Regions from separate parts of the Homo sapiens genome. Here region 2 is linked to region 1. The links come from fine-mapping of genetic effects on gene expression. A gene starts in region 1. The other region holds a variant in brackets. All regions are shown on one strand. Distances are between the middles of the regions.

What was found. PIP is the estimated chance that this variant, and not a neighbour inherited with it, causes the effect.
Region 2: its variant is fine-mapped to the expression of DENND5B in blood mononuclear cells (TOPMed, PIP 0.93).

What each region holds. Positions count from the first base shown.
Region 1 is chr12:31,585,880-31,595,126 of GRCh38, forward strand. DENND5B (DENN domain containing 5B) reads right to left here and starts at 5,257. Exons shown (of 21, transcript NM_144973.4): 1 at 4,827-5,257. The coding sequence starts at 4,953. It overlaps DENND5B-AS1 (DENND5B antisense RNA 1), which reads left to right and starts at 4,044. Exons shown (of 3, transcript NR_046909.1): 1 at 4,044-4,240. It also overlaps the pseudogene RNU5F-4P. RefSeq lists enhancers at 3,778-3,857, 5,838-6,067 and silencers at 4,288-4,627, 4,778-5,047, 5,118-5,407.
Region 2 is chr12:31,531,759-31,541,005 of GRCh38, forward strand. The region is part of intron 1 of DENND5B (DENN domain containing 5B); the gene reads right to left. It also overlaps the pseudogene ANKRD49P2. Among named protein-coding and RNA genes, the nearest start is that of DENND5B-AS1, 54 kb to the right of the region's middle. The variant A/G (reference allele first, on the strand shown) is at 3,843.

The DNA of each region.
Region 1 (9,247 bases):
CAACTATTAGGAGGGCTGAATCCAGGCTACCAAGGGAACACTTTAAGAATATTCTGGTCATCACATAATTTGTAGACTCATGTAAACTTATATTCATTCCCTTATTAAACACTGTGTACTGTATATAAGGTACTACGAAAGAGGCAAAGTCCCTTCTCTCTTAGAGGGCTTGTATATTTATTTTACTTAATCAAGGCCTTATCATGTCCTTCATTTTCCCATTGCTCAAAAGATTGACTGCTGTAAATTAAGCCATGTGTACTCCTACAGCCAGGTCTTAAAGGAAATAAAAGCTATAAAATAAGATTTCAAAATGATGTCTGCCTTCCCTGACATCAACTAATTGCATGATTTACCTCCATTTATACCTCCTTTCTTCTACATGCAATAAAGAATCTCGTTTTGAAACCTTTTCCTTATCTTTAATATTTAAAGGGAATTTAAACATTTCTCCCAAAGGACGTTTTGTTCATGGGCAAAGTACCTCTTGAAAATATACAGTGGGTAGGAGAAGCACAAGAACTTCGATGTGGTACAGAAAGGACGACAGGTAATATGAGTATATCAGTATATACATGTGGACATCACCATAAAGTTTCTAAGTCCTCCATTTTAAAATATATTTTTATGTATATAGTTAAATTATTTTCAGCTATTAAGAGTTCTACGTATTTGAGATGAAAGAAGTCTCTTCCATTGCTGTTTAAGCTTGGTTTTACTAGGAGGGTCTAAAAACCATTTGAAGCCTTGATAAGTTTTATTATAAGGTCTTAGTCTATTTAACTGTTGTTGTCTTTGATTTCAATGTCCCACCACCTGCAGAGTGTGAATTCTAGGAATATGCGTATGTTAAGAAAGTCTATGAAGCAACTGGTAGAATTTATGTTTAATAGAAGTCAATTAAGACCTTCTAGAGGCACGGTGACAACTTGCTAAGAAAGTGTGATAAAGACAGATCAGCTCCAGCAAGGCAAAATAGAAACTTGACTATCATTAACTTTGAAATTAATGCAGCAAAACAGAAACTACCTTCTGGCTAATTTGCCTAACACAGTTTCATGATCCCCAAATGTTGCTCTACGGAAATAGTCAAGAAAATTCTTAGTTGAGAACATGATATGACATTCTCCTGTTTTCCTGCCATGTCACTATCCACACTCCTTAATCTCCTCGGTTGCCTCCTCCTCCTCATCCTCCCCACCTATGCATGCTAGAATGGCCCCAGGGCTCAATCATTTGCGTGTCCTCCTCTCTTTTCTATCTATACTCAACCCTTAAGTAATTTCATGGCTTTAAATTTATACCTACAGTCCAGATCTTCCCCCAAGAGATGTCTTGTCTATGTGACATCTCCATTTGAATGTCTAATGGACACATCAAACTTAATACATCCAAAACTGAACTGATTTCCAGTCTGATTCTCCATCAGTCTTCCTATTTCAGGAGAGAAGTTTATAATTGTTCAGCCCCAAAATCTTGGAGTCATCTTTGATCACTTCTTTGAATATGACTACCATATTCATAGAATTCATACATATTCATATAAATCATCAGCAAATCTCGTTGGGCCTACCTTCAACATCTATCTAGAATCTGAGTCCTTCCTGCTGCTTCACCAAGCCAACAACTTCTCTCACCACAAATACCTTTTTTTTTTTTTTTTTTTTTTTTTTTTTTTTTTTTTTTGAGACAGAGTCTCCCTCTGTTGCCCAGGCTGGAGTGCAGTGGCACGATCTCAGCTCACTGCAACCTCCACCTCCTGGGTTCAAGCGATTCTCCTGCCTCAGCCTCCAGAGTAACTGGGATATTACAGGCATGTGCCACCACGCCCAGCTTTTTGTATTTTCAGGTGAGATGTGGTTTCACCATATTGGCCAGGCTGGTCTTGAACTCCTGACCTCAAGTGATCCACCTGCCTCGGCCTTCCAAAGTGCTAGGATTATAGGCGTGAGCCACAGCATCCAGCCTCTCACCTCAAATACTGAAAGAGCTCCCTAACTGGTCTCTTGCCTCTACCCCTGCCCTGATATAGTCTACCCAACATGGCAGCCACAACAGTCATTTTAGAAGGCACATCAGATCTTGTCATTACTCTGCTCAAAACCTTCCAATACTTTCCCATCTCAGAGTTAAAAGCCTAAAAACTGCATGAGGCCCTATACAATCTCCCCTGCCCTTTCTCTTTGATCTTACCTACTACTCTCCCTCTCCCTCAGCTCCAGCCATACTGGACTCCTTGCTGTTACCAGCACAAACTAGTGACTGTCCCACTCAGGGTCTTCGCACTTGCTGTTTCTTCTGCGTGCAATGCTGTGCCCCCAGGTGATCCATCTGGCCTGCTTCCTCATGTCCTTCAAGGCTCTGTTCAAATGTCACCCTCCCTGTGAGGCCTTCCCTAACCATCTTATTTAAAATCACAACCCCACCATCCCACCACTCTGCTGGCATGTCCCTAAATCCACTCCCCTGCTTTATTTTTCCTCATAGCACTTATTAACATCTGGAGAACTATATACAGTCGGCACTTCACGTGGACTCCGCATCCACAGATTCAACCAAGCACAGATTGAAAATGTAGTTAGGCCTACAATGGTTGCATCTGTACTGAACATGTACAGACTTCTTTTCTTGTCATTATTCCCTAAACAATACAGTATAACAACTATTTACATAACATTACAACGTAACAGGTATTGTAAGTAATCTAGAGATGACAAAGTGTACAGGAAAATGTTCATAGGTTATATACAAATGCTACAACATTTTATTATAAGAGACTTCAGCATCCGAGGATTTTGGTGTGGGGGACACTCTAGAATCCATCCCCCATGGTTACGGAGAGATGATTGTATTTTCATTATCTCTTTACACTAGAACGTATGCTCCATGATGGCAGGGATTTCTGACTGCTTTCTTCACAGCTGTCCCCAGTGCCTAAAAAACCGACTACAGATAGATGCTTTCAAAACTGTTGGATGAATGATACTGAAATATTACAAGGCAAAATACATTATTACCTGAATACATTAAATATTATGAGAAGCAGAAATCCCAATCACCCACACTCACACAGTTTTGCAAAAAGAGACATCATAGTTTGTTTCTTAAAAATGCATTAAAGTCTAATTGATGGTTTTGTTAACATCATTCTCTCTGTGCCTAAAGAGTCCTAGGTCACACCTAAAAGGTACAGTTTTAGCTTCAGTAGGCAAACGGAAAAGAAAAATACAGGCTTTTTTCCTTTCATTAGTCATCACTGACAGAAGGCCTCCAAGTGACCCTGGTGCCACAAATGTTTAGGATCTTTAGGGAAGAAAGGAGTCTAGAAAAATAACAATATTCCTTCACCAATCTCGAGAAGAATCTCTCCAAATCTCTCTGCAGACATTTTTTCTTCATATCCTTTAACAAAGCCATTCTTAACATGTACATGAAATCTTAGTTGAAGAAACAATGTGATTACATAATTACACATACGGAAAAACTTGGTATTCTATTATCTCTCCAAATTTTTTTTTAACTAAAACTAGACTTACAGTTTTTGTTGAAAATGTTTTGTGTTTCTACCTCCGAAGAATATGAAAAAAAGAAAATGTTTTGCTCTGAAGCTGAGTTAAGAAGAAGATAGCCAAGACGTGGGTTGATGGGGACTGTATTTTAAGGCTGAACAGTTTTGTTTACTATTGTTTATTATTTAATATATTCTTCCCAGTCTCCCCACCCCCACCAAAGGAAAAGCGAAAAATTTACGTTAGTGCAATCAATAAGGAATTATTTGTCCAAAGGAAGTTGTTCTGAAAGGCTATGACCTAAGTCTTTAACACAAAGTTCAGGCGGTAGATGTCACTTCTCTCACCCATTTAACAACAACAACAAATCAAGATTCAGATCCCGCGGAGGCAAGCAGAAAGGAACAGGCGTGAAAAATGAAATCAGTTGTTTCTCCCCGGCCTCCTCTCGACACTGCGCACTCCGCTGCCCTGCCCCCGCCCATCGCCCTTTAGCGGCCCCTTTTAACGGCGTCGTTTGCCCAGCACAGCCCCGCACTGCGCCATCAAATGAGTCAAGCGGAAGGACCGGTACCCCTCCGGGAAAACCAGGCACTAACACACGGTGCACCCAACTGAATTTAAACTCGGGAACAGTGTAGGCAGTGTCAACAAAGCGCGGTGCTGGGTCCCGAGCGTCCAAAGGTCCCTGCCAGCTCCCAGACGCGGCCAAATCCACAGGATTCCAAAAGGTGACTTGGCCGGCACCGCAGAGCGGCAGGCGGCGCAGAGGGCAGAGTCCGACCGGTCCCCGCCCCGCGCTCGCTCCGCACGGCCACCGGCTCCTCCGCGGACGCTACCCCGGCGGGAGCCGAGCTGAGTCCGACTCCCCGTCTCCCGAAGAGGCCCGAAAGCCGCGTCACGTGCGGGGCCGAAACTTCGCGGCCGGGGCCGGGTGGCTGGCGGGTGGGAGGCAGGCACGGCGGTCGGGGGGCAGCCCGCGCGCCCGGTGACTCACCGGCCGCCTCCGAGTGCGGCTGCAAGCGAAGGGGCCGGCGCGCCAGGCGGGGTCCGTGCCCTTGGGGCCACCCCCGCGCCTGTTATTAATAACCCAGCGCCTGGAGGCGAAAGCCCCGGTGGGCGCAGCCGCAAAGCCCGCACGCGGAATAAATAACAATGTCATTAAATCGCGCCCGAGCGCCAGTTCGGCCAGAAAGCGGCGGGAGGGCGCCACCGGGAGCTGACTTTGTCTGGAGCCTGCACCCCGCCTCCCGCGCGTCCCCACAGCGTCCCCCGCGCCCCTGAGGGGGCTCAGCGCCGCCGCAGCCCTGGCCTTACCCGCCAGCTCGTCAGGCTCCAGCCCGCTGTCCGCGTCGATCCCGCACAGCACGAAGTAGTGCGCGAAGCGGCAGGCGGCCGGGGAGGAGCCCGAGCCCGGGCCGGGCGCCGCGCAGCTCCCGCTCATCCCGGCCGCGCTGCTCCAGGGGCCGCCGCCGCCGCCGCCCGGGAAGGCTTTCTGCGGAGGCTGCCACCACCGCTCCGGCTGTGGTCTGTGCGCCCGCCCTAGGGCGACACTGGCGCGCCCATGGCCGCGCAGCCGCCTCTCGCCGCCGCAGCCTGCCTCCTCGCTCGGCGCGGGGGAAGCGGCCGCGGGCTCGCGCGCGGCGGGTCCGGAGCCCGGCCGGGTGGGGGAGGGGCGCGGGGGGAGTGTCGGCCTGAGAGGCCCTCGCAGCCGCAGCTGCGCTCGCGAGCTGAGAGCCGCCGCGTCTGGCGCCCGCGGGTCAGCTGAGCGGCGCTCGGGCTGTGGGAGCGCGGGGCGGGCGGGGGCGCCGGGGCTCGGCGCGTGCGACGGAGAGGGGTGGGGGGCGCGCTCGCGAGGGACGGAGGCGCGCGCTTCTACCGTGCGCGCGCGCCTAGCGGGTTCGGAGGCCAAGCCTGGCGTGGGGCCGCATTCGTGCCCACTGGCCCCGGCTGCGGCATCGAGGGCGACCCTGCACACACCCCTCCTCGCCCTGGCCAGCCGATAAGAGGGCTAGCCTCAGTGTGGGGGTCTGTCTTCTAAAGGGGTTGTCACCCATCCTTATTTCTTTTAATGCAGCTTTGGGGAAGGTGAACAGCCGCTCTGAGATCATTTCGCATAACGGTCTGAACCATCGTCTTTTAAACTGTGACCTGTGTGGGGGTGCCTGTCTCACTTTAAGGTCCTCCCTTCCCCCAGCCGTCACCCCATTTACAGGCCATCCTTAGTGACTTAGTGACAAGTCAACCGTGAGGGGGAAAAAACACAACTCAATACCCACAAAGCGTTGAGACTTCTAGAAGGAGTGCAGTCACCAACCCCCGCCTTCTGTCATTTATCCTGACATTTTCCAGGTCAGTGTAAATAGCCAAGGCGCTCCAGTTCCGCAGCCCTGTACCCATCCGATGTTATCGGCTCTCCCCGCAAGTAACAATCGGAGGCTAAAGCAACAGGAATTAGACCATGAACTCTGCTCCTCCCAAAGGCACGGCTTTCTTGCCCTGCTCAGCTGTCTTTTGCCTTCTCGGAAGGAACTCGACAACCAGTTCTTTTTCCTTTGAAAGAAAACTGGCTGGGCTCAGTGGCTCACACCTGTAATTTACTCAACACTTTGGGAAGCCCAGGTAGGAAGATCACATGAGACCAGGAGTTCAAGACCAGCCTGGGCAATAGAGGGAGACTCTGTCTCCATCTAAGTAAAAAAATAACATTTATTTATTTAAAAAATAATTTTTTAAGAGACAGGGTCTCACTGTATTGACCAGGCTGCTCTCAAACTCCTGGGTTCAAGTGATCCTCCCGCCTTGGCCCCCAAATGTGCTAGGATTACAGGCATAATAAGCCACTGTGCCCGGCCATGTAAGTAAAAATAAAACTTAAAAGATAGAAAACTGAATGCAATTCATCTCCACATGGCAACCCCTTCCACACCACTCCCTGCTTTCTTCTTTGGGGATTTGGGGCATCTACCACTAGACATACAAGCAAACCTTCCAGAGAGGTTGCCTGAGAGAACCTCGATTATTTGACTGAATAATGTTCTTCCTAGAAGATACATGTGCGTGCATACCATCATTTAATGTAGCTTGTATCTTCACTTTCTTTCTTCAATTTTGAAATGAAAGAGGCTGGCCATGGTGGCTCAGGCCTGTAATCCCAGCACTTTGAGAGGCCAAGGCAGGAGGAGCATTTGAGTCCAGGAATTCAAGACCAACCTGGGCAAAATAGTGAGAGACCCTGTCTCTATAAAAATAAAATGAGGCCGGGTGCAGTGGCTCAAGCCTGTAATCCCAGTCCTTTCGGAGGCCAAGGCGAGAGGCTCACTTGAGGTCAGGAGTTTGAGACAAGCCTGGCCAACATGGTGAAACTCCGTCTCTACTAAAAAAAAAAAAAAAAAAAAAAAATCAATAAAATAATAATTAGTAAAATATAAGAAGAATTGGCCGGGTGCAGTGGCTCATGTCTGTAATCCCAGCACTTTGGGAGGCCAAGGCGGGCGGATCACGAGGTCAGGAGACCGAGACCATCTTGGCCAACATGGTGAAGCCCTGTCTCTACTAAAAATACAAAAAATTAGCCAGTGTGGTGGCACGCACGTGTGGTCCCAGCTACTCGGGAGGCTGAGGCAGGAGAATCACTTGAACCTGGGAGGCGGAGATTAGAGTGAGCCGAGATCGCGCCACTGCACTCCAGCCTGGGCAACAGAGTAAGACTGTCTCAAAAAAAATAAGAAAAGAAAAGAAAATACAAGAAGAATCAAGAAATCAGGGTGAGCCACAGTCTGGGTAATTGACCTTTAGGTCATGTTGCACCCTGTACTTCTTCAAAAACACTTGTAATGGCTTTTCTGTGTCTTCTTAGCTGTGTTGTAAACTCCACAGAGCAAGAGTTGGACTCTGTGGTTCTTCACTTTTCTGGTATCTAGCAGAACTCTGGTCCTATTTAGCCCCTCAATTTATATTTGAGTGTTGAAAGAAGAGCAGTTATCTAGGTGATAACAGGTTGTTGATTCTACCAGAAAAATATACAAACTTTAATATCTGTAACATTTTTTAAAAAATAAGTCCTGGGCTGGGCATGGTGGCTCACACCTGTAATCCGAGCACTTTGGGAGGCCGAGGCAGGTGGATCACATGAGGTCGGGAGTTCGAGACCAGCCTGATCCACATGGTGAAGCCCCGTCTGTACTAAAAATACAAAAATTAGCCAGGTGTGGTGGTGCACACCTGTAATCCCAGCTCTACTTGGGAGGCTGAGGCACGAGAATCACTTGAACCCGGGAGGCAGAGGTTGCAGTGAGCCAAGATCATGCCACTGCACTCCAGGTGACAGAGTGAGACTCTGTCTCAAAAAATAATAATAAAATAAAGATTAAAAAATAAATAAAAATAAAAATAAGCTCCACATATGCAAGGCCTCAAAACTTGGTCAGGCCAGGTACGGTGGCTCACGCCTGTAATCCCAGCACTTTGGGAGGCCGAAGGGGGCAGATCACCTGAGGTCAGGAGTTCAAGACCAGACTGGCCAACGTGGTGAAACCCTGTCTCTATTAAAAATACAAAAATTAGCCTGGCATGGTGGTGAGTGCCTGTAGTCCCAACTACTTGGGGGGCTGAGACAGAAGAATGGCTTGAACCCAAGAGGCAGAGGTTGCAGTGAGCCAAGATCGCACCACTGCACTCCAGCCTGGGCAACAGAGCAAAACTCCGTCTCAAACAAAACAAAACAAAACTTAGTCAAAAACTCAGAATTGTTCCCTTCCACGGAAATCTTTAGTAAAAGACAAAAGACGTATACGATCTGAAGAGAAACCAGAGTATGGACCTAATTGTGAACACTTTAATTACTCTTATGCAATATTGCTTTTCCTCACGTAGAAAGTACTGAAATGCATAACATTTCATTAGTAAGGAAGGAAGTGCCAGGTATCTGTTTCTCCTGTCTTCGGTGGTAACTTCTTACAGAATGTTTGTTAGATTCCAAGCGAATCAAACAAACACAGTAAAAAAACTGATTTACTGTTTGCACTAGCCAAGGCACGTCATTTTTTTTTTAAATTTGACCAGTAACTGATTTATGAGTTTGTAAGCCCCACATTAATATTTTTAAGGTGAAAAAAATTGAATCACCAACAAACAATGCATGCAATTAAAATATACTAATCTCATAAAAATAGAATTCCTAAAATCTTTCCTAAAGCTTTTAGGAAAATAGTCACACATTACAAAATTAAACACTAATTTGAAAATATCCGTATACTTTTTTAATTATCACTTCAGGATGACACTGTGTAAGTATATTCTGCATTAAGCTACAATGAAACGAAGTTGAAAGGATACTCAAGAATTAGCTATGTATCATTATATGCAGATTGTCCTCTGAAATAATGACAGAGAAGTAAATTAGCTCAGTGAACAAAAATCTGAGCAATGATCTGCTGTCTCCAAAGGACTTACTGGTAAAGCCTCAAATGGACGGCATGGCATGCTTGGGATAGCTGAGTCCTGCCACGGTCTGCGGAAGTGGAGGAATGAGAGATTGATAGCACTGCTAAGCTGGTGGCACATGGTGACTCTGACTACCAGTAAAATGTGGTCCAATGAATGTTTTGGGCTCTAAATAGTTACATTAGCAATCAATCCCTTCTTTCTTGGTTGTTTATATGTGGCTGGAGTGTGGTGGTGAAGAACGGTGTTGACAAGGATTGTCATAGCATCAAAAGAGAAAAATAACCTCTCCT
Region 2 (9,247 bases), 54 kb before region 1:
CCCTGCAACTTCCTTGATCCGCCCAGCAGAAACTGAGCTTATATCTCCATTCTACTCACTACAACAGAAAAGCTGGAACTGGCCTAGAAGTAAAATCAGAATAGAGAGATACTTGTAGGCTACTTATTTGGAGACATGAAGGTCTTCAGCCAGACCTTACAGAGAATTACTTCACTTACTCAGGTAACGTTTATGGAGCCATTTCACTGTGCTGTGTACTGGAAATATAATAGAAAATAAAAAAATACACCAGGGGACAAAAAATAACAAATGCCTGCTCTCATGGAATTTCCAGTTTGGGGAGAAGACTGACATTAATCAAAGGAATGCAATTATGACTACATGGCTATAAACTGAGATAATTCTCTGAAGAAAGAAGCACAGTTTACTTAATGTTGATTAAAATAAAGGGGTGGCATGGAGTACTCTGGGATGTCAGAGACTTCCCTGAGTGACAGATGCCTGACCTAGGACTTAAAGAATAATTAGTCATTAATTAGGCAAAGACTGGGGGATAGGGGGAGTAGGTAAGAAGCATTCCAAAATCAAAATAAGCCCAATGTGTCTGGAGGGCAAAGATACAGGAAGAGAGGGGAGGTTTAAGACAAGAGGGTGGGCAGGGCTTGCTAACATATTTAGGCTCATAGACCTCAATATAACAGCAATGGAAAAATCACTGAGGTGGCTTTAAGTGGTGTAGAAGAGACCAGGCAGGGAGGGGGAAAAATTCTCATTCTAAAAAGATCATTCTGGCTTCACTATGGAGAACACAGATGGGAGAATGGTCAGGATAGACCTGTGAGAAAATTAGTGAGTTATATAGTAGTGAAATAGGGAGGTGGGAGAATGATAGAGAGAAGCAGGTAGATTTGAGACCTATACAGGAGATAAAATTGATGGTACCTGATAAGTTATTGAGGATAAAATTAGATATGGGGGAATTGGGAAAAATAAAGTATTCAGAACTTCTAAGTTTCTGGCTTTGGCAACTAGTTAGATTGTGGTACCAACTTGTTCAAAAACGGAAGGCTGGAAGAGGATCTGGTTTGAAATGAAAGCATGTTCCATCTCAGATATGTTGATGATTATTTCACTGGCTGAATTATTTTGTACAATGAGAGAAAAGGTTCCCGTGGGACCAGAAGACCTAGGATCAAGTTCTGGGTTCAGACATTATAAACAGGACTCTGATTTTAACAAGTCACAATTTGTAGGCATCGGTTTTCTGAGGCTTATTTCATTGACTTGGACTACATCACCTGCAGTTCTTTCCTAAGCTTTGGAGACTAAGAGCTTGCACAAGTCATTGGATAATCATCCTTTTGATCTGATTAAAGAAACTACATGTAAATAAGCTCACATTAAATATTGTGAGCTATTAAATATTGTTAAAATATGAATGCTTAAATTTGCCCTCCTATTACAGCAGGCTCTCCAAATCCACAGTTCTGCATCTGAAGATATGACCAACTGTGGATTGAAAATATTTGAAGAAAAAAAAACAATTTAAAAAGCCAATACAACAACAAAAAATACAGTACAACAAATAAAAAATACAGTACATGCTATTTACATGGCATTTACATTGTATTAGCTATTGTAAGTAATCTAGAAATCATTTTTGTTGTTAAAACTTATACTTTATTTTCTTGAATGTTTATATTATGCTTTTTGTCACTATCCATACTGTTTTTAAGCCTGAGCCACTGTGTGGTTTCAGCCTCAATATAATAATCATCCCCTCACTTTTAGAATTCCTTTTCCCTTATCACTTTGCTTTGTAAGGTTTCTATAAAACAAAGACCTTGGAAAATCAACATTTCCTGTGAACTCAAGAGATTATGTAAGCAGTGCCCAAATCAGCAGGATTAGGCAGGTAAAAGCAGTTGGATGGCAGATACACTATGATCTCTTTGACCACAATGTAGTTGTATGCATGTCTAAAAGGTCATACTGATTCACCATTAGAATAAAGATCACATGTAGGTTGACCAGGGAGGACTATCCACAGAATTGTGTGAACTGTGGTAGGGGAGGCAGTATACAACATTCATGGATGAAACACCTAGCTAACTGCTTTCCTAAAAATTATCTATTGTCTAAAAGACAAACATCTAGGCTTTTTAGTGTTTTTTTTTTTTCCTTTAACTTATGAAGATTCAAGTCACTAATATGTTAGTTCTTCTGGTTTAAAATGAAAGTAACTGGCTATGGTAATGTAGAGAAGACAGATGACTGCATCAATATTTAAGACTTAAATTTTGAGTTACCTCACCTTATAAAAATATATATCAATATACTAAATACTCAACAAAGATCCAGGATGTACAGTATTTAAAAATACATTTCTCTTGGATCAGCACCAAAAATAATCAGTTTCTGTTCAACTTGTGTCAAGTTTTTTTTTTGTCGGTTTTTTGAGGCTGAGTCTCACTTTGTGGCCCAGGCTGGAGTGCAGTGGTGCGATCTCGGCTTACTGCAACCTCTGCCTTCCAGGTTCAAGCGATTCTCATGCCTCAGCCTCCCAAGTAGCTGGGATTACAGACATGTGCCACGATACTCAGCTTTTTATTTTTATTTTTACTTTTATTTTGTATTTTTAGTAGAGACAGGGTTTCACCATGTTGGCCAGGCTGGTCTCGAACTCCTGACCTCAAGTGATCTGCCTGCCTCGGCCTCCCAAAGTCATGTCAAGTTTTTAGGTCTAGGCAAGTTAAAATTATCTCTGATAAAAATCACGAGCTCCACAAAAATAATTAAAGATATATCCAAACATCTTTCAAATACATTCTGATATCAGGTCAGGCATTTCACTTTAAAGAACATAATAGTAACTACCTTACCACTGAATTTTTGTAGTAAGACGTTTTAAATCAACTTTGTCTTATGGGAATATTTTATATCTTGCACGAAGGAGCCACTGGTACTTAGACACCTAAAATTACTAGAACCATTAAGACTGAGGTGAAGAATTTGTATAGCCTTCCACCATTACAAAGAAGGAGTGATAGATACTTGTCCTCCTGGCAATATCAAATGCCGTTTCTTTGAAGTTGTTTTTCAGCCCTGGTTTGATGTAATGGTTCATCAGGAGGAGTTCTAGGTTATCTTTGCTGTCTCCTTTCCCAGCAGCAAGATGCAAAGGGGTCAAGAGGCTTTGGTTTGATTAACTGGGTGTGGCGGCGTGTGCCTGTAGTCCCAGCTACTTGGGAGGCTGAGGCAGGAAGATAGCTTGAACCTGGGAGGTGGAGGTTGCAGTGAGCGCAGATTGCACCACTGCACCCAAGCCTGGGTGACAGAGCAAGACTCTGTCTCAAAAAAAAAAAAAAAAAAAAAAAAAAAAAGGCTTTTGTTTGGGCATTGATATCTGCATCACACTGAGGTAAGAAAGAAGCCACTCTGGTACCACTTGCAAGTACTGTGCAGGGGTGTCCAGCCATCCGCCATCACTGCATGAACATCTGCCTCTTGTGCTATCAGCTCAGGGACCTAAGTGTCCACTGCAGGCTACTTAATGAACACTAGGGATAAAGATATACTCATGGCTTCCAGTCTGACCCAGCACAGTCCCAGTGGTGGTAGCCACAGGGGTGACTCTGTCACCCCACCCCACCTCCAGGTGAATTAGCACAGAGAAAGAGAGAGAGAGAGACACACACACACACACACATATATACACATACACACACACACACACTCTGACTCAGTTTGTCTGGGAGAAAGTAAGCGAAGAGAACCAGAGTCTCTGCCTGGTAATCCAGAGAATTCATCCAGGTCTTATCCGAAACTACCAAGGTGGTAACTCTACAAATCCGCAAGAACCACAGGTTACTGGGCTTGGG[A/G]TGCCCCCTAAGGCAGACACGGCTTAGATCTCAATACCCAAGTTCAAATACCTGGAAAGCCTTCCTAAGAAGAGTGGGTAAAAAAAAAGTCTAGACTGCAAAGACTACAGTAAATACCTGACTCTTCAATGCCCAGACACCAACAAACATCCGCAAGTATCAAGACCATCCAGGAAAACATGACCTCACCAAATGAACTAAACAAGGTAGCAAGGACCAATCTTGGAGAAACAGAGATATGTGACTGATATGGTTTGAATCTGTATCCCCACCAAATATCATGTCAAATTATAATCTCCAATGTTGGAGGTGGGGCCTGGTGGGAGGCGACTGGATCATGAGGGTGGTCCTTGACGAATGGTTTAGAGCCATCCCCTCGGTACTGTTCCTCCTGATAGTGAGTTATCGCAAGATCTGGTTGTTTAGAAGTGTGTAGCAGCTCTCCGCCCCTCTTCCTCCTGCTTCTAATCATGTGAGACGTCTTGCTCCCACTTTGACTTCCACCATGATTCTAAGTTTCCTGAGGCACCCCCAGAAGTCGAGCAGATGTCAGAATCACGTTACCTGTACAGCCTGTGGAAACATAGGCCAATTAAACCTCTTTTATTTATAAATTTCCCAGTCTCAGATATTTATAGCAATGCGAGAATGGACTAATACAGTGACCTTTCAGACAGAGAATTCAAATAGCTGTTTTGAGAAAACTCAACAAAATTCAAGATAACACGGAGAAGGAGTTCAGAATTCTATCAGAAAAATTTAACAAAGAGATTTAAATAATTAAAAAAGAACTACGCAGAAATTCTGGAGTTGAAATATGCAACTGACATATTGAAGAATGCATCAGAGTTTTTTAATAGCAGAAGGATCAAGCAGAAGAAAGATTTAGTGAGCCTGAAGACAGACTATTTGAAAATACAGTCAGAGGAGACACAAGAAAAAAGAGTAAGAATGAAGTACACCTACAAGATCTAGAAAATAGCCTCAAAAGGGCAAACCTAAGAGTTACTGGTCTTCAGGAGGAGGCAGAAAAAGAGATAGGAATAGAAGATGTATTTAAAAAAAAAAGTTTATTCAAAGAAATAATAGCAGAAACCTAGGAAAGGTTATCAATATCCAAATATAAGAAGATTACAGAACACCAAGCAGATTTAACCCAAAGAAAGCTATCTCAAGCCATTTCATAATCAAATTCCCAAAGGTCAAGGATAAAGAAAGAATCCTAAAAGCAGCAACAGAAAAGAAACAATATACAACTGAACTCCAATACATTTGGCAGCAGATTTTCAGTGGAATCCTTACAGGCCAGAAGAGAGTTGCATAACATATTTAAAGTGCTGAAGGAAAAAAACTTTTACCCCAGAATAATTTATCTGGCTAAAATATACTTCAAACATAGAGAAATAAAGACTTTCCCAGACAAACAAACACTGAGGGATTTCATCAACACCAGATCTAGCCTAGAAGAAATGCTAACAGGTGTACTTCAATCAGAAAGAAAAGGACACTAATGAGCATTAAGAAATTATCTCAAGGTACAAAACTCACTGGTAACAGTAATTATATAGAGAAACACAGAATAACACTGTAACTGTGGTGTGTAAATTACTCTTATTTTAAGTAGACTAAAAGATAAATCAAAAATAACTACAACAACTTTTCAAGACACAGACAGTACAATAAGATATAAATAAAAACAACAAAAAGTTAGAAAGCAGGGGGATGAAGTTAAGGTGTAGAGTTTTTATTAGTTTTCTTTTTGCTTGTGTGTTTATGAAAACAGTGTTAGGCTATCAGTGTAAAATAATAGGTTATAAGATAGTATTTGCAAGCATCATGGTAACCTCTAATCAAAAAACATACAACAGATACGCTGAAAATAAAAAATAAGAAATTAAAATCATACCACCAGAGAAGATTACCTTCACTAAAAGGAAGACAGGGAGGAAGGATGGAAGACAAGACCCATAAAACAACCAGAAAATAAGTAACAAAATGGAAGGAATAAGCCCTTGCTCATCAATAACAACACTGAATGTAAATGGACTACATTCTCCAATAAAAAGACAGAGTGGCTGAAGGGATTAAAAAAACAAAAAACAAAAAAACAAGACTCAGTGATCTGTTGCCTACAAGAAGCACATTTCACCTACAAAGACACACATAGACTGAAAATAAAAGGATGGAAAAACACATTCCATGACAATGGAAATCAAAAAAGACTAGGAGTAGCTATACGTATATCAGACGAAATAGATTTCAAGACAAAAACTATAAGAAGAGACAAAGAAGGTCACTATATAATGATAAAGGGGGCAATTCAGCAAGAAGATGTAACAATTGTAATTGTATATGGACCCAACACTGGATCCATATACCAGTGTTGGAGCACCCAGATACATAAAGCAAATATTGTTACAGCTAAAAAGAGAGACAGACCCCAATATAATAATAGCTGGTAACTTCAACATCCCATTTTCAGCGTTGGACAGATCTTCCAGAGAGAAAATCAATGAACATCAGACTTAATCTGTACCAAATGGACCTAATCAGACCAAATGGACCTAATAGATACATACATAACATTTCATCCCAAAGCTGCAGAGTACACATTCTTTTTCCTCAGCACATGGATCATTCTCAAGGATGGACCATATGTTATGTCACAAAACAAGTCTTAAAACATTTAAAAAAACTGAAATAATATAAAGCATCTTCTCTGACCACAATAGAATAAAACTAGAGATCAATAATAAGTGGAATTATTGAAAATTTTCTTGAAATAAATGATAAAGGAAACACAACATACGAAAAGCTATGGGATACAACAAAAGCAGTACTGAGAGGCAAGTTTATAGCTATAAGTGCCTACATCAAAAAAGAAAAAAACCTCAAATAAACAACTATTTAATGATGTATATTAAAGAACTAGAAAAGCAAGAGCAAACCAAACCCCAAATTAGTAGAAGAAATAATAAAAATCAGGCCAGGCGCAGTGGCTCACGCCTGTAATCCCAGTACTTTGGGAGGCTGAGACAGGTGGATCACTTGATGTCAGGAGTTCAAGACAAGCCTGGACAACTTGGTGAAACCCCATCTCTACTAAAAATACAAAAAAATTAGCCGGGCATGGTGGTGTGCACCTGTAATCTCAGTTACTCGGGAGGCTGAGGCAGGAGGATAGCTTGAACCTGGGAGGTGGAGGTTGTAGTGAGCCGAGATTGTGCCACTGCACTCCAGGGTGGGCAACAGAGTGAGATTTCATCTCAAAATACAAAACAAAACAAAAAATAAAGATCAGAGCAGAAATAAGTGAAACTGAAACAAAAAAAATACAAAACTTCAATGAAACAAAAGGTTTTTTTTTTTTTGAAAAAAAAAATTGACAAACTGCTAGACAGACTAAGAAAAAGAGAAGACACAACTAAGTAAAACCAGAGATAAAGAAGGAAACATTCAACTGATACCACAGAAATTCAAAGGATCATTAGTGGCTGCTATGATCAACTATATGCCAATAAATGAGAAAATCTAGAGAAAATGGATAAATTCCTAGATACTACAACCTACCATGATTGAACCATGAAGAAATCCAAAACCTGAACAAACCAATAACAAGCAACAACATCAAAGCCATAATAAAAAATCTCCCAGTAAAGAAAAGCCTGGGACCTGATGGCTTCACTACAGAAGTCTACCAAACATTTAAAGAACGAATACCAATCCTACTCAAACTATTCTGAAAACTAGAGGAGGAGGGAATAATTCCAAACTCACTCTATGAGGCCTGTATACCAAAATCAAAGACATATTACATATTAAAAGAAAAAAAATTACAGACCAATATCACTGATGAAAATTGATGCAAAAATCCTCAACAAAATACTAGCAAACCAAATTCAACAACACATTAAAAAGATCATTCATCATGACTAAATAGGATTTATCCCAGGGATGCAAGGATAGTTCAACATATGCAAATCAATCAATCTGATATATCATCATATCAACAAAATGAAGAACAAAAACCATATGATCATTTCAATGGATGCTTAAAAAGCACTTGATAACATTCAACATCCCTTCATAATAAAAACCTTAAAAAAACTTGGTATAGAAGAAACATATCTTAATATAATTACACCATATATGACAGACTCTCAGCTAGTATCATACTGATGAGGAAAAAAAAAAACCTTTCCTCTGAGATCTGGAATACAACAAGGATATCCACTTTCACCACTGTTATTCAACACGGTACTAGAAGTCCTAGCTAGAGCAATCAGACAAGAGAAAGATATAAAGGGTATCCAAATTGGAAAGGAAGGAGTCAAGTTATCCTTGTTTGCAGATGATATGATCTCGTATTTGGAAAAACCTAAAGACTCCACCAAAAAACTATTAGAACTCATACAAAATCAGTAAAGCTGCAGGATACAAAATCAACCTACAAAAATCTAGCATTTCTATAGGCCAATAGCAAACAATCTAAAAAAGAAATCAAGAAAGTAATCCCATTTACAATAACTACAAATAAAATTAAATACCTAGGAACTAACCAAATAAGTGAAAAGTCCCTACAATGAAAACTAAAACACTGGAGCAAGAAATTGAAAAGGACACAAAAAACTGGAAAGACATTCCATATTCATGGGTTGGAAAACTCAATATTGTTAAAATGCCCATTCTCCCCAAAGCAATCTACAGATTTCATGCAATCCCTATAAAAATACCAATAATGTTCTTCACAAAAGTAGAAAAAACAATTCTAGGCCAGGCGTGATGCCTCATGCCTGCAATCCCAGTGCTTTGGGAGGCCAAGGTGGGCAGATCACTTGAGGCCAAGAGTTCCAGACCAGCCTGGCCAACATGGTAAGACATCGTCTCTACTAAAAATACAAAAATTAGCCAGGTGAGGTGGCGACTACCTGTAATCCTAGCTACTCAGGAGGCTGAGGCACAAGAATCGCTTGAACCTGGGAGGCAGAGGTTGTAGTGAGCCAAGACTGTGCCACTGCACTCCAGCCTGGGCGACACAGTCAGACTCTGTCCCGCCCCCCAACCCCCCCACCAAAAAAAAAAGAAAAGAAGAGAAAAAAACAAACCTAAAATTTACATGGAACCACAAAAGACCCAGAATAGCCAAAGCTATCCTGAGGAAAAAAACAAAACGAGGAATTTTATTACCTGACTTCAAATTATACTACAGTTAGAGTAACCAAAACAGGATGATACTGGCATAAAAACAGACACATTAGACCAGTGAAACAGTCTAATAAAGAATGCAGAAATAAATCCACACATTTACAGTGAACTCACTTTAGACAAAGGTGCCGAGAACATACAATGGAGAAAGGACAGTCTCTTCAGTCAATGGTGCTGGGAAAACTGGATATCTTTACGCA